Regions from separate parts of the Homo sapiens genome. Here region 1 is linked to region 2. Evidence: fine-mapped expression QTL. Tissue or cell type: lung. Region 2 holds a variant in brackets; the other region holds the start of a gene. All regions are shown on one strand. Distances are from middle to middle.

Region 1 (8,119 bases), 34 kb before region 2:
TGACTAGCTATGTGATCTTGTCTACGTTGTTTTACCTCTCAGACTTTCAGTTTCCTGAGGCTCCAAGGAAGATGATGGTAATATTTGCTTCTGAAACTGCCCCTATAAACTTTATAAAATTAGGCCGGGCACGGTGGCTCACACCTGTAATCCCAGGACTTTGGGAGGCTGAGGCGGGTGGATCACCTGAGGTCAGGAGTTCACGACCAGCCTGACCAATATAGTGAAACTCTGTCTCTACTAAAAATACAAAAATTAGCCTGGCGTGGTGGTGTGTGCCTGTAGGCCCAGCTACTCAGGAGGCTGAGACAGGAGAATTCCTTGAACCCGGGAGGTAGAGGTTGCAGTGAGCCAAAATCATGCCACTGCACCCCAGCCTGGGAGACAGAGCAAGACTCCATCTCAAAAAATACATAAAATTAATCAGGAAAGAAGGGAGGGAGGGAGAAACAAAAACAAACCAAGCTGGCAGCAGGTTCAGCATTCATGATTAACTCGGCACACTCTCCCATCTGCTTCCTCACACTTTGGTGCCTATTGTTCTAGAATCACTAGACCCAGTTACAAGATTATAGTTCACCTTAACTGCTCTTTAAATAGCAACTCGAACATTATGAAATGTTGTTTTCACTTTGAGATATTCCTTCAGGTCCTGATATGGAAGAAACTACTGATGTCAGCTGAAGGACCACACTGATGCAGCTGTCCTGAAGGACTCCCCGAGGAGCTACCTCATCAAAAAATACAGTTTCCACTTTGCGATGATTTTATCCCCCTTGCCCCAACCGACCAGCAACCCCAATTTTCCAGCCCCTCACTCTCCACAATCCTCTTAAAGCCCCAGGCCAGAACTTCTTGGGAGACAGATTTGAGGGTTTCCTTCCACTTCCTTGCTGGGTGGCCTGTGATCATTAAACTCTTTCTTTGCTGCATCCCTGCTGTCTTAGTGTAATTGGTCTATACTATGCAGTGGGCATGCAAACCTGTTGATGACCCCTCCTTGGGTCATCATGAGGACTAGAAATACTGGATACCAAGGGCTATTCTAGTGCAAGATTGCATCTCCTCTGTGCTGTGCAGAGAGGATAATCACTATCTCTTCAAACGCAGTGTCCCACATATATTCAGGAATTCCTGCAATTATGAGACAAATATTACTGTTTGTTGTTATAATTATTTCTCAAGCATTATCCCACCAGACCAATGAAATGGAAGTTGTAGAGAAAAAAGTGGGGGACAAATCTGTCTGTTTTTGTTTGTTTGTTTGTTTGTTTTTGAGAAAGAGTCTTGCTCTGTCGCCCAGGCTGGAGTGCAGTGGCATGATCTTGCCTCACTGCAACCTCCACCTCCTGTATTCAAGTGATTCTCCAGCCTCAGCCTCCCAAGGAGCTGGGACTACAGACGCCCGCCACCATGCCCAGCTAATTTTTGTAGTTTTAGTAGGGATGGGGTTTCACCATGTTGGCCAGGCTGGTCTCGAACTTCTGACATCAAGTGATCCACCCGCCTTGGCCTCCCAAAGTGCTGGGATTATAGGCATGAGCCACCACCCCTGACTAAGTCTGTCTGTTTTTGAAGTACAAAAAAAAAATCCAAAAGAAATTTCCACCAAACAGATAACAATGACTTTTGCTTTTTATAGCGTACACATCTGTATCATCTGAATTATTTGATAAAAAAGCATTTTTTAATTACTTGTTTGTTACTGCTTTATTGTTTTAAGTGAACTGTTCCCTCCACAGTTAGATCAGAACTCATTGAAACCTAAGATCAGAGAACTGAATTGAGTAGAGTTTTGTCTTGGGGTAAAGCAAAGGAAAATCTTTTTCCTTGATCCTTTATTCCATATTCTAACTCTCTGTGTGCGAGTATGTAACAGCCGTGATTTAACTTAATCACCATGACTTGACAAGCTGCAGCCTTTGAGACTGACTGAGTCATCAAGTTTGGGAAACAGATTTTGTTTGACCTGGTGCGGCCCAATCTTATCTGTATCTTCAATTTAAGGACAAGTGAGTAAATATGTGAGCCACTCTGTGTTTCTGGCACTTTTTTCTCTTATTCTTACTTTGCAAAGACTTTTTATGCCTGCAATTTTATTAACACTTCTAATATCCAAAAGAAACAGTGATTCTGTAACAAGTTATCTTAAAAGAAAAAAAAAAGAGAGAAGCAGAATGCGATATGTAACCCAATACCGTTTCTATAAATTAAATGTATATGACCACAGTGCACATTATGTAAGAACATGGAAAAAAAAACTGTATGCAAATCAAATACATCACAGTAGTTACCTATAGTAGGAGGAGAAAAGCAGGAAATTGAGTTTTTTTGGTTTTCTTTTGAGACGGGATCTCACTTAGACACCCAGTCTAGAGTGCAGTGCCACGATCGCAGCTCGCTGCAGCCTCCACCTCCCAGGTTAAAGCTATGTTGCCCACGCAAGTCTTGAATGCTTGGCCTCAAGTGGTCCTTTTGTCTCAGACTCCAAAAGTGCTAGGATTACAGGCATGAGCCACAGCACCCAGCCTGGGAATGGAGTTTTGTTTTATATTAAGTTACATAAATTAATGAGAAGGGAGAGAGTGAGAAAGAAAGAATTTGGCAGACCAGTGGGGATAAAGTGCCACCAACTCTGATTAGTGTGAAGAATTCAACTCTCGGCATTGTGTTTTTAGGGTCCATCCAAGTTGCTTTATGTACATGGAACCCAGTGCTTCTGATGCTGTGTATATCCTGTGGCATGCGTCCACCACGCTTGGTCCACACACTCTGTTATGGGCTGAACTGTGTCTTCCCCAATTTCATGTGTTAAAATCCCCAAGTCCCAGTACTCAGAATGTAACTGTATTTGTAGATAGGGCCTTTAAAGAGGTAATTAAGGTTACATGAGGCCATATTAGTGAGCCCTAATCCATTTGACAGTATTTGAAGACAAGGCCTTCAAAGACGTGTTTAAGTTAAACGGAGGCTGACAAGTGGGGCTCTAATCCAATATGGCGGGTATCCTTACAAGGAGAGACATTGAGCCAGGTGTGGTGGTGGGCCTGTAATCCCAGCTTCTAGGGAGGCTGAAGGAGGATCACCTGAGTCCAGGAGTTCAAGGCTGCAATGAGCTATGATGCCCACCATTGCACTCCAGCCTGGGTGACAGAGCAAGACCTCAAAATAATTAAAATTAAATAAATAAATTAAAGACATTGAATCTTCACAATGACTGGAAGTTAGGCATTCTTCTTATCCCCATCTTGCAGATGGCTGAACTGAGTGAGGCAAGGAGAAGGTAAGTAAGTCTTTGAAAGCTACACCACTAGTAAGTGGCAGGTGCAGGCTTCGAACCTGCAGTCGTCTAATACCAACGACTTAGCTTCACGTTCAACCCCTGCCTGAGACCACCTCTCCTTGCAGAAGCCAGGTCAAGGCCTGATGTTTGCTAGGGTGTGATGGGTGGGGTGCCTCAGTGGCAAGAGTGCTCACTCCTGCCTGGGGGAGTCTGGCAAGGGTTCACAGAGGTGACCTTGAATTGGCTGGTGGAAGGCGAGTAGGTGTTCAGCAGGCGGACTGGGGACAGACAGGCAGGGTGTCTGCACCGCAGCCCTGGGCGAAAGCTTGCACTGCGGGCAAGCGGCAGGGCTGACGGGGAGCCCAGGGATCGGAGCCAGCACCGGGGGCTTATTAGGGCTGCGGCCGCCCCAGGCCCTGCCTTTGGACCCTTCCGGCCTGCTTGGCAGATGCCACGGTTGGTTCCCCCACGGGGCATATTTCCGCCGGGCTCCAACTTAGGACCCCAGGCGGAGGTCCAGTGTCAGCTGGACAAAGCTCTGTTAGGAATTTTCCTATCAGGAGTCCCTAACCCCCTACACGCACACACACGGGCGCGCGGGCGCGCACGCACACACACGCACACATGCACACATACGCGCGCGCACATGCACATAGGCACACAGAGATACGCGCACACACACACACAAACGCACTCAGATTTCCCGGACCCTGGTTTTCCTCCTGTGACCCTTTCGGGGCCGGGCTCTCACCCTAAAGAAGCAGCCCCGCCCTGGGGTGGCCCCACCCTCTCTTGGGACCTGTCATAAGTCGGACCCCGGGCGCCCGGCTGCGCAGTCCCAGCCGCCTTCCCCAGGCAGTGGAACCTTCGGGCTCCTGTAAGTAGACCTCCTGCTTTCTTTCCTTCCCTTTTCTCCCTCCTCTAACCCCCTTGCTTTCTTCCTGCCAAGTTTCTAGACGCCCCAGTGGAGGAGGTTTGCTCTTAGACCTCCTCCCCTTACGTCGAAATGACCGCTGGGTCTTGCACTCGGAGGATCTTGGGAGCCGACGTCCCGACGCCTCCCGCCCCCGCAGTTCCTTGGAGAGCTTGGAGCCGCGCGCCGGAGGGAATAGGAAAGCTTGGTTACAACCCGGGACACCCGGTAGCTTCCTGCACCCGGGAGGGGGCTGGCCAGGGAACTTGCTGGACTGCACAACTGGGGGAGGGTAGAAGAAGAAAGATCGGGGTGGGGATTCGGGAATGGGCAAGCGGGCGGCGGGCGGCGGGAGGCGAGGGTGGGAGCAAAGGGCGAGCGGGCAAAGGCCGGGCGCCGCGCCAGGCCCCCTCCTCGGGCGGGCGAGACTTTCCCGGGACCTGGCCCCTCTGCGGCCAGACCCTTTCCAGGAGGGCTTCTGGACTTGTAGCGAGTTTGGAAGCCCAGCGGTTGCTTTTTTGGGGAAAGGGACAAAGATGTGTGAACTCTAAAGAAGTTGAACTCATAGAAATAACGACTAGAATGATGGTTGCCAGAGGCTGGGAGCGGGTTCGGGGGGGAATGGGGGCTTGTTGGCCAAAGGGTACGAAGTTCAGAGACGAGAGGAGTAGGTTCTGAGATCTGTTGCACAGCAGAGTGACTAGAGCCAATAATGTGTATTTCGAAATAACAGAGTAAACTGCAAATGTCTCACCGTAAAAATGATACGTAGGGCCTGGCGCGGTGGCTCACGCCTGTAATCCCAGCACTATGGAAGGTCGAGGCGGGCGAATCATTTGAGCTCAGGAGTTCTAGACCAGTCTGGCCAACATGGGGAAACCCCGTCTCTACTAAAAGTACAAAAATTAGCTGGGCGTGGTGGCGGGCGCCTGTAATCCCAGCTACTCAGGAGGCTGAGACAGGAGAACCGCTTGAACCCGGGAGACGGAGGTTGCAGTGAGCTGAGATCGCGCCATTGCACTTCAGCCTGGGCGACAGAGCGAGACTCCGTCACAAAAAAAGTCTTAATTTTAAAAAAAGAAAAGAAGGAACAACCCCGGGCTGCAGATCAGACCGCCCCCCTGGCTCCCTCGCAATGCGGGAGTGCTCCCTCCAGGTCACCGTGTCCCCTCCCGCGGCACCGGTAGGGGAGCTGGGGAGATCACTGGCAGCTCCAAATGGTTTCGTAACTGGATTGTTTGTAGCGGATGCACCCGCGGGAAGGCGCAGGTCCCAAGTGATTCGGCAGAGTTCAGTCCAAGCAGAACATCCTGAACCCCCAGCTCGGGGCAGCCTTCATCATCTTCCCTTGCTTTGGTGCAGCGTTTCAGCTCAAAATCGGTTTGGTGTGGAGTTTAAACTCAAATCCCTACTGGGCCAAAGAAAATTCGCACCCGATGGCTGAGTGCAAGTGGTTCACACCTGTAATCCCAGCACTTTGGGAGACCGAGGCGGGCGGATCGCCTAGGCAACACAGTGAGGCTCCTCTCTACAAGAAAAGAGAGAAAAAAAAGTATTTAAAAAAAAAAAAAACGCACCTGAAAATGGGGCGGAGCAGCGGCGCCCTCCGGTGGTTTTCAGGAGTTCTGAGACTGCCTTGAAATGCGTGGCTGTTTCCATCTGAAAGAGGTGCATGGACTTCTATCTATTGGGTTCTTTGTGTTTGATGCTTTTTCTTAGAATTCACTCCATGTGAGATGAGAAACGGAATGGAATATTCGCACTTCCGGTAACTGTTCAGTGCCGTAGAGAAACTCTAGCCTAGCAGTGGCTGGGAAGAATTTCTTTGTTGTTTTATATTTTTTCCTTGTCTTGAAGATTTCTTTAAACCTCAGTTTCCTCATCCGTACACTGGCAATGATACTAATGTCTATCTTATAGGGAAGTTATAAGGATAAAATGAGGTAATCTATATGAAGTGCTTAGCACAGCACCAGAAACATAGTAAATGTTAAATGAATGTGGTTGGCATGATATGATAATGATGGGATTTGAGGATATTGTAATTGTGCTGTCTGGTCTCAGTTTGACGGCTAGAGAACTGTTAGAATGCAGTCACTTCATGGCAGTTGACTACATATTTACTGTGTTCTAGGAGCTTCAGGATGGTTCGTACTAAGACATGGACCCTGAAGAAGCACTTTGTTGGCTATCCTACTAATAGTGACTTTGAGTTGAAGACAGCTGAGCTCCCACCCTTAAAAAATGGAGGTAAGTCATACTAAAAATATTTCAGAGTTGGAAGGGACTGTATCAGTTAGCTTTTGCTGCATAACAAACTACCCCAAAGTTTAGTGACTTTAAGCAACAACGGTTTATTAGTTCACAATTCTTTGGGTTGGCAATTTGGGCTGAGTTAAGCTGGGTGGTTCTTCTTAGGTCTCATCTGGGGTAAATGGTTAATTTAGGATGGGCCTTGCTCACATGTCTGCTGATTAGCAGGCTTTCTGTTGGGGTGCATGCCTTAGTTCTCATCTATGTGGCCTTTCTAGCAGGCTAGCTTGAGCTCTATTCTTATAGTGGCCCCATAGATCTAGAGCAGCAGTAGTTGGCAAGCTCCAATGTGCAAGCACTTTCTCTTTTTTTTTTTTTTTTTTTTTTGAGACAGAGTCTTGCTCTGTTGCCCAGGTTGGAGTGCAGTGGCATGATTTTGGCTCACTGCAACCTCTGCCTTCTGGGTCCAAGCGATTCTCTTGCCTCAGCCTCCTGAGTAGCTGGGATTACAGGTGTGCGCCACCATGCCCCCCTAATTTTTGTATTTTTTCTGAGATGGAGTCTTGCTCTGTCACCCAGGCTGGATTGCAGTGGAGCAATCTCGGCTCACTGCAACCTTTGCCTCCCAGGTTCAAGCAATTCTCCCTGCCTCAGCCACCTGAGTAGCTGGGATTACAGGCGCCCACCAACACGCCCGGCTAATTTTTTTTTTTTTTTGTATTTTTAGTAGAGATGGAGTTTCACTGTGTTGGCCAGGCTGGTCTCGAACTCCTGACTTCAGGTGATCCACCTGCCTCGGCCTCCCAAAGTGCTGGGATTACAGGCGTGAGCCACAGTGCCCGGCCTTAATGTTTGCATTTTTAGTAGAGACGGGGTTTCCCATCTTTGCCAGGCTGGTCTTGAACTCCTGACCTTAGATGATCAGCCCGCCTTGACCTCCCAAAGTGCTGGGATTAAAGGTGTGAGCCACCATGCCCCGCTGTGCAAGCCCTTTTCAAGCCTCTACTTGTGCCACGTTTGCTAATATCCCATGGTCAAAGCAAATCACAAAACCAAGCTCAGATTCGAGAGGCAGAAAATAGATTTCTTGATGGGAGAAGTGGCAAGGAGACAAGCACACAAGGGTGGGAGTTATTTGTGGCCATTTTGCAATCTGCCACAAAGACCTTTCCAGGGTTCTCAGTGTGAATCCTCGATGTCACATGGCAGGATTCCCCTGCTTTCATTGATAACTGAAATTCATGCTTGAGTGCATTACTCTTCATGGCTTTGACCAGACTATGGGGAGGATGTCCTCTCTATCCTCATAAGCCTGATGATGGCAGTGAGGTAAGCACTGCCCAGTAGCTATACGAAGAGTTCAGACTATAAGATGAGTCTCGGCTGGGTGTGGCGGCTCACACCTGTAATCCCAGAACTTTGGGAGGCTGAGGCAGGCAGATCACAAGGTCAGGAGATCGAGACCATCCTGGCTAACACAGTGAAACCCCATCTCTACTAAAAATACAAAAAATTAGCTGGGTGTGGTGGTGAGCACCTGTACTCCCAGCTATTTGGGAGGCTGAGGCAGGAGAATAGCATGAACCCGGGAGGTGGAGATTGCAGTGAGCCAAGATCGCGCCACTGCACTCCAGCCTGGGCGACAGAGCAAGACTCCATCTCAAAAAAAA
Region 2 (8,000 bases):
GGCTATGGGAAATATTTCATAGTGATCATTCTCTCCTTGATATGCTTTCTTCCCTTGGCTTCCCTTAACTCTTGGTTTTCCTCACTGATTGGTCCTCCTCAGACTCTTGCTAGCTTTTCTTTACTCCAAATTAATATTAGAGTGCCCCAGGTCATGGTCACTGGGACTTTGCTCTTCTCTATCTACGCTTGAGCTATCCCTTAGTTAGCTCGTCTGGGCTCAGTATGCTGGGAGTTCCCATCTCTATCTCCAGCCTGGCTCTCCTCTTAACTCTAGGCTAGTATGTCCACCTGGATGCCTGATACACATCTCTGACATAACATCTTGAAAACTAAATATATTTTGATCTTTCCTGCTCAACATGCTCCATATTCAGACTTTACTATCTCAGTTATAACAATTCTATACTTCTAGTTTCTCAATCCAAAAGCCTTGGTCATCTTTGATGTCTTTCTGTCGTACCCATGTCTAATCTCTAAGGAGATTCTGGTGGTTCTATCTTCAAAATATATACAGAATCTGAACACTTCTCCCACCTCCCTGCTACCACCCTGGTCCAGGCACCATGCCTTCTAGCCTGGATGCTTGTAGTGTATCGGGGGAACCTGCCCCCAATATTTCAACATAGGTTCTTTCTATTTTTCATAAGTGTTGGCTGGCTGAGAAATAAAGAGAAAGAGTACAAAGAGAGGAATTTTACAGCTGGGCTGCTGGGGGCGACACCACATATCAGTAGGACCGTGATACCCACCTGAGCCACAAAACCAGCAAGTTTTTATTAAGGATTTTAAAAGGGGAGGGGGTGTACGAACAGGGAGTAGGTCACAAAGATCACATGCTTCAAAGGGCAAAAGGCAGAACAAAGATCACATGCTTCTGAGGAAACAGGACAAGGGCAAAATCAGAATTACTGATAAGGGTCTATGTTCACTGTGCACATATTGTCTTGATAAACATCTTCAACAACAGAAAACAGGGTTCGAAAGCAGAGAACCAGTCTGACCACAAATTTACCAGGGCGGAGTTTTTCCCCCACCCTAATAAGCCTGAGGGTACTGCAGGAGATCAGGGCGTATTTCAGTGCTTATCTCAAATGCATAAGACAGACACTCCCAGAGCAGCCATTTATAGACCTCCCCCAGGAATGCATTCCTTCCCCAGGATATTAATTATTAATATTCCTTGCTAGGAAAAGAATTTAGCAATATCTTCCCTACTTGCACATCCATTTATAGGCTCTCTGCAACAAGAAAAATATGGCTGTGTTTTTCCCAACCCCGCAGGCAGTTAGACCTTATGGTTGTCTTCCCTTGTTCCCTGAAAATCGCTGTTATTCTGTTCTTTTTCAAGATGCACTGATTTCATATTGTTCAAATACATGTTTTACAATCAATTTGTACAGTTAACACAATTATCACAGTGGTCCTGAGGTGACATACATCCTCAGCTTACAAAGATAACAGGATTAAGAGATTAAAGTAAGACAGGCGTAAGAAATTATAAAAGTATTAATTTGGGAACTGATAAATGTCCATATTAAAATGAAATCTTCACAATTTATGTTCCTCTGCCATGGCTCCAGCCAGTCCCTCCGTTTGGGGTCCCTGACTTCCCGCAACAGTAGTGGACTCTACCTGGCCTCCCATCTTTGCATCCCTATAGACAATTCCCAATGTGGTGGCCATAGCGATCTGTTAAGGCACAAATCAAATCCTGCCGTTCTTATGATCCAAACCATGCAAAGCTCTGCATTTCACTTAAAGTAAACCAAAGTGCTAATATTCAGTAAGCTTACACAAAATCTGACCCCTGATATCTCTCTGATTTCATTTCTTAGTATTCATCCTCTTATTTACTTGGCCCAGTCTCCTCCACCCCTCTGTAACTGCTTGCTGAATTCTCTCACGTCCTGCAAGCCTTTGCTAAAAAGTGCCGTCTGGACTGGCACGGTGGTTCACACTTGTAATCCCAGCACTTTGGGAGGCCAAGGCAGGTGGATCACAAGGTCAAGAGATCGAGACCATCTGACCAACATGGTGAAACCCTGTCTCTACTAAAAATACAAAAATTAGCTGGGCATGGTGGCGTGCACCTATAGTCCCAGCTACTTGGGAGGCTGAGGCAGGAGAATCGCTTGAACCTGGGAGGCGGAGGTTGCAGTGAGTCAAGATCGTGCCACTGCACTCCAGCACAGTGACAGAGTACAACTCCATCTCAAAAAAACAAAAAGTGCCTTCCAGGTGAGGCAAGTTTTTAAATGGCCCTATTTTAAGTTGCATTCCCTCTTCATTCTTGATCCTCCATATCCCACGCCCCCCGACTTTTTTTGTTTTTTTTTTTTGAGACAGGGTCTCAGACACCCAGGCTGGAGTGCAGTGCCGTGATCATGGCTCACCACAGCCTTGACCCAGGCTCAGGGGATTCTCCCACCTCAACCTCCTGAGTAGCTGGGACAACAGTCATGTGCCACCACACCTGGCTAGTTTTTTTGTGTTTTTCGTAGAGAAGGGCTTTCACCATGTTGCCCAGGCTCCTATCCTACTTTTATCCATAGCAATTAATCATCTTTTAACATAATATATACTATAATTTACTTATTCATTTATATTTATTGCACATCTCCCTTCTTGAGGATGTAACCTCCATGAAGACAGCATATTCATACATTTTGCTTTCTGGTGTATCTCCAGCCCCCAGAATAGTATATGAAGCAATGTAGGCACTGAATAAATATTGCTGAATAAATGAATGTTAGAGGGGTGCATACATGTGCCACAGCTCTTCCAGGTCCCAAGTAGCAAATAAGACAATCCCTTAGTCCTGTGCTGTGATAATTTTCAAACCTTACACCATGTAAGTTTTAGTCAACAGAAATCTGAACAATCAAGTTGCATTATTTTAGTTTTACAGGGGAAAAATGACATCATGTTTCCTAATCCCTGGCCAATGATCATTTCCCAATTCCAAAGAATAGATTGCTCCTCCAGCAGCCACTGGAGCTTGGCACTCTTCCCAGTATAGCACTTGCAGTGCCGGGCTGGGCTGTCACCAGGGAGCTGAATCTAAGTTGTCCCAGTTGGTGAAATCTAATGTAACCCATCTGTGATCACAGTTGACAACAGGAAACCACTGTGCTGGTGTCCCCAGTGCTTCCCTCTAACAAAGTGAAGCTGATCATAGTTAGTTAGGTGTTTATTTATTTATTTATTTATTT[A/T]TTTTTGACATGGAGGCTCACTCTGTCGTCCAGGCTGGAGTGCAGTGGCGCGATCTCAGCTCACTGCAACCTCTACTTCCTGGGTTCGAGTGATTCTCCCACTTCAGCCTCCCAAGTAGCTGGGATTACAGGTGCCCGCCACCATTCTCGGCTATTTTTAGTAGAGATGGGGTTTCACGATGTTGGCCAGGCTTGTCTTGAACTCCTGACCTCAAGTGATTCTCCTGCCTCAGCCTCACAAAGTGCTCGAATTATACGTGTGAGCCACCGCGCCCAGCCCTAGTGGGTTTTAAGTCGTGAGTTGGCCTAATTTCTTTCACATACTCCCTTTTTAATCTCATTCCCTATTTTTTAAAATTCACTTTTTATTTTAGAAAAGTTTTAGGCTGGGTGCGGTGGCTCATAGCTATAATCCCAGCACTTTAGGAGGGTGAGGCAGGAGGACTGCTTGAGCCCAGGAGTCCAAGACCAGCCCTGGCAACATAATGAGACTCTACAAAAAACAAAAAGTTAAAAAATTAGCTGGGTGCAGTGGTGCACACCTGTAGTCCCAGCTACTCGGGAGGCTGAGGTGGGAGGATCACCTGAGTCCAAGAGTTCAAGGGCTGCAGTGAACTCTGAATGTGCCACTGTCCTCCAGCCTTGGCAATAGAGCAAGACCCTGTCTCAAAAACAAAAATAAAAATAGAAGTTTTAGATTTATAGGAAAATTGGGAAGATAGTACAGAGAGCTCCCATATACCCTGCATCCTATACCCTAATTTCCCCTATTATTAACATTTTACATTAGTATTTGTATTAGTTTGTTAGGTCTACCAAAATAAAGTACCACAGACTGGGTGGCTTAAACAACAAACTTATTTTCTCACAGTTCTGGAGGCTAGAAGTCTAAGATCAAGGTGTCAGCAGGGTTGTTTCTTTGCAGGCCTCTCTCTTTTCAACTTGTAGATGGCTTCCTTTTCCCTGCATCTTCACGTGGCCTTCTCTCTGTGTGTCTATGTCCTAACCTCCTTATAAGCACACCAGTCATATTGATTAAGGCCCACCTGTGTGACTTTGTTTTACCTTAAGTACTTTTTTTTTTGAGATGGAGTTTTGCTCTTGTTGCCCAGGCTGGGGTGCAATGGTGCGATCTCCGTTCACTGCAACCTCCGCCTGCCGGGTTCATGTGATTCTTCTGCCTCAGCCTCCTGACTAGCTGGGATTACAGGTACACGCCACCACGCCTGGCTAATTTTCGTATTTTTAGTAGAGACAGGGTTTCACCATGTTGGCCAGGCTGGTCTCGAACTCCTGACCTCGGGTGATCCACCCGCCTCAGCCTCCCAAAGTGCTGGGATTACAGACATGAGCCACTGCGCCCGGCCTCTTAATTACCTTTTTTTAAAAAGCCCTATCTCCAAATATAGTCCCATTGTCAGGCACTGGTGATTAGGACTTAAACATATGGATTTGGATTGGGGGCATACAATTCAGTCCATAACAGTATTCGTTCTCTATTTATAACCTCTGAACTGGATTCTACCTTTCCACCCTATCCAGATTCCTTGCTTCTTCAAGAATAAGAATGAGTTGGGGCTTTCAAGTCAAAAGTTCAAATCTCAGCCAGGCGCAGTGGCTCATGCCTGTAATCCTAGCACTTTGGGAGGCTGAGGTGGGCGGATCACTTGAGCCTAGGCCTTTGAGACCAACCTGGGCAACCTAGCAAGACCCCGTCTCTACAAAAACTAAAAAAATTAGCTGGGCATGGTGGCACATCCCTGTAGTCCCAGCTACTCAGGAGGCTGAGGCAGAAGGATCACTGGAGCCCAGGAGGTTGAGACTGCAGTGAGCTATGATTGTGCCACTGCACTCAAACCTAGGTGACAGAGTGAGACCCTGTCTCAGAATAATAATAATAATAATAATAATAATAATAATAATAATAATAAAAGTTTAAATTTCAGCTTCCCTACTTTGTAATTGACTGACTTCAAGCAAATAATCTTGTCTATAAATCCATGAAGAGTGCTAAGCCATCACTGGAATACATTAGCGAAAAACTTGTATCAGGTAACTCAGGTCTCTATATAAGACCCCTTAAAAAAATCTGAAAATGTAAATTAGTTCCCATTAGTAGGCTGTGCCTTGTAGGAGAAAGAGAAATGAAGACCCTTTCTCACTAACATGAACCCTTCCTTCCCACACTCCCAGATAAAGGTTAAACACATGTTAAAAGAACCTTGGCTTAAAGGGGAGACAGATTATTAGACTGTCCTGCCATTTATATTTCCTGAATAGGACCTGCCTCTTCAGGGGCCAGAGGTAATGAAGGGTGCTCTTTTCTCTGTCTATTTGTACCTCCTCTGAGATCATTGTGTTATTAAACTTTACTATGCATCTTATTTAGAAATTGCTTAATCGCTCTGGGCACGGTGGCTCACGCCTGTAATCCCAGCACTTTGGGAGGCCGAGGCAGGCAGATCACGAGGTCAGGAGATCGAGACCATCCTGGCTAACACGGTGAAGCCCTGTCCCTACTAAAAATACAAAACAATTAGCCGGGCATGGTGGTGAGCACCTGTAGTCCCAGCTAGTCGGGAGGCTGAGGCAGGAGAATGGCATGAACCTGGGAGGCGGAGCTTGCAGTGAGCCAAGATCGCGGCACTGCACTCCAGCCTGGGCAACAGAGCGAGACTCTGTCTCAAAAAAAAAAAAAAGAAAGAAAAAGAGATTGCTTAATCACTGCCTTATGACATTTCGCACTATGATCCGACACCTATTATTTCTTCTTAGGTGTACTTTGTAATCTTTTTTACATGTACTGTGTAAGTGGATCTTGCCCCACCTTGACTTCAAGTTCATGGAGGACAGGACTTCCATCTCTTATTTTCAAGGTTTCCAATGATGTACCTGATAAATTTGTTGCTAGGATGAGAACAGTATATCATTGAGAATATTAAATTAAGTTTTAAAATTTGTTGTTGCTTTGATACAGGGTAAAATCCAGTACAAGGAATATATCATTGAAGGATTTGAAAACATGCCAGCTGCATTTATGGGAATGCTGAAAGGAGATAATTTGGGGAAGACAATAGTGAAAGCATGAAAAAGAGGACACATGGAATCTGGAGGCCATTTAGATGATTAGTTAATTTGTTTTTCACCATTTAGCAAAAATGTATACTACCTTAAATGTCTTAAGAAATAGTACTCATAATGAGTTTGAGCTACTTAATAAAATACATTTAAGTGGTATGTAATTAGTGATGGAGGATGGAAGTTTCAAAGTCAACAACAACCAGTCACCTCACTGTTCACTACAGCTTCTTCTGAGTTGTGGTAGAAAATAATGGCTTTGAAGTGTGAAAATTTTCCAAACACTGTATGTTTTCATTCATAAGTGGGAGCTGAACAATGAGAACACATGGACATAGGGAGGGGAACAACACACGCTGGGGCCTGTGGAAGCCGGGGTGAGGGAGGGAGAGCATCAGGATAAATAGCTAATGCCTTCGGGGGCTAATACCTAGGTGATGGGTTGACAGGTGAAGCAAACCATCATGGCACACGTTTACCTATGTAACAAACCTGCACATTCCACACAATTATCCCGGAACTGAAAATAAAATAAAATTAAATTAAAAAAAAAAGTTAGCCGGGCGTGGTGGCTCATGCCTGTAATTCCAGCACTTTGGGAGGCTGAGGTGGGCAGATCACGAGGTCAGCAGTGCAAGACCAGCCTGACCAACATGGTGAAACACCGTCTCTACTGAAAATACAAAAATTAGCTGAGTGTGGTGGCACATGCCTGTAATCCCAGCCTCTTGGGAGGCTGAGACAGGAGACTCACTTGAACCTGGGAGGCGGAAGTTTCAGTGAGCTGAGATTGCGCCACTGTACTCCAGCCTGGGTGACAGAGCGAGACTCTATCTCAAAAAAAAAAAAAAAAAGTTTACTGCTTCTGTGACCTTAGACTTCTGATTTTTCATCTTTAAAGTGAGGATAATAACATCTTTCATATACATGTTATACATTTATTTAAAACACCAGCATAGGCCGGGCGCGGTGGCTCACGTTTGTAATCCCAGCACTTTTGGAGGCGGAGGCGAGGTCAGGAGTTCAAGACCAGCCTGGCCAACATGGCAAGACCCTGTCTCTACTAAAAATACAAAAATTAGCTGGGCATGGTAGCGGGTGCCTGTAATCCCAGCTACTCAAGAGGCTGAGGCAGGAAAATCGCTTGAGCCCAGGAGGCAGACGTTGCAGTGAGCCGATATTGTGCCATTGCACTCCAGCCTGGGCAACAAGAGCAAAACTCCATCTCAGAAAAAAACAAAACAAAACAAAACAAAAAAACAACAGCATAATGCCTGGCATATATTAGGTAAGTGTTAGCTACCTCCCTGCCGATATCAGTGATTTTGAAGTCTTAAGATTACCACCCCTATTGCTTGTGATTATGCCAGAAGAAATAATCACTGCAGGCATATAGGGGTCTTAGGGCCAGTCCATACTGGTCCTCTACAGATGAGTCTAATTATTCAACACACCAAAGAAGGAATCTGTCATTCACAGAGCTGCACAAAAGATAACACACAGGAATGTCTATACATCTACAAAAATGTGCAAGATTTATATGAAGAAAAACTTAAAACATTACTGAAGGGCCAGGCATAGTGGCTCACACCTGTAATCCCAGCTCTTTGGGAGGCTAAGGTGAGATCATTTGAGTCCAGGAGTTTGAGACCAGACTGGACAATACCCCACATCTGCAAAAAATTTTCAAATTAGCTGGGCATGGTGT

What was found. PIP is the estimated chance that this variant, and not a neighbour inherited with it, causes the effect.
Region 1: PTGR1 starts here. The variant in region 2 is fine-mapped to the expression of PTGR1 in lung (TOPMed, PIP 0.92).

Annotation. Positions count from the first base shown.
Region 1 is chr9:111,595,644-111,603,762 of GRCh38, reverse strand. PTGR1 (prostaglandin reductase 1) reads left to right here and starts at 4,116. Exons shown (of 10, transcript NM_001146108.2): 1 at 4,116-4,160; 2 at 6,331-6,446. The coding sequence starts at 6,341. It also overlaps the pseudogene LRRC37A5P. RefSeq lists an enhancer at 3,693-4,265.
Region 2 is chr9:111,561,423-111,569,422 of GRCh38, reverse strand. PTGR1 (prostaglandin reductase 1) reads left to right here. Exons shown (of 10, transcript NM_001146108.2): 10 at 6,192-6,856. The coding sequence ends at 6,302. It also overlaps a transcript of ZNF483 not described here. Among named protein-coding and RNA genes, the nearest start is that of PTGR1, 34 kb to the left of the region's middle. The variant A/T (reference allele first, on the strand shown) is at 3,215.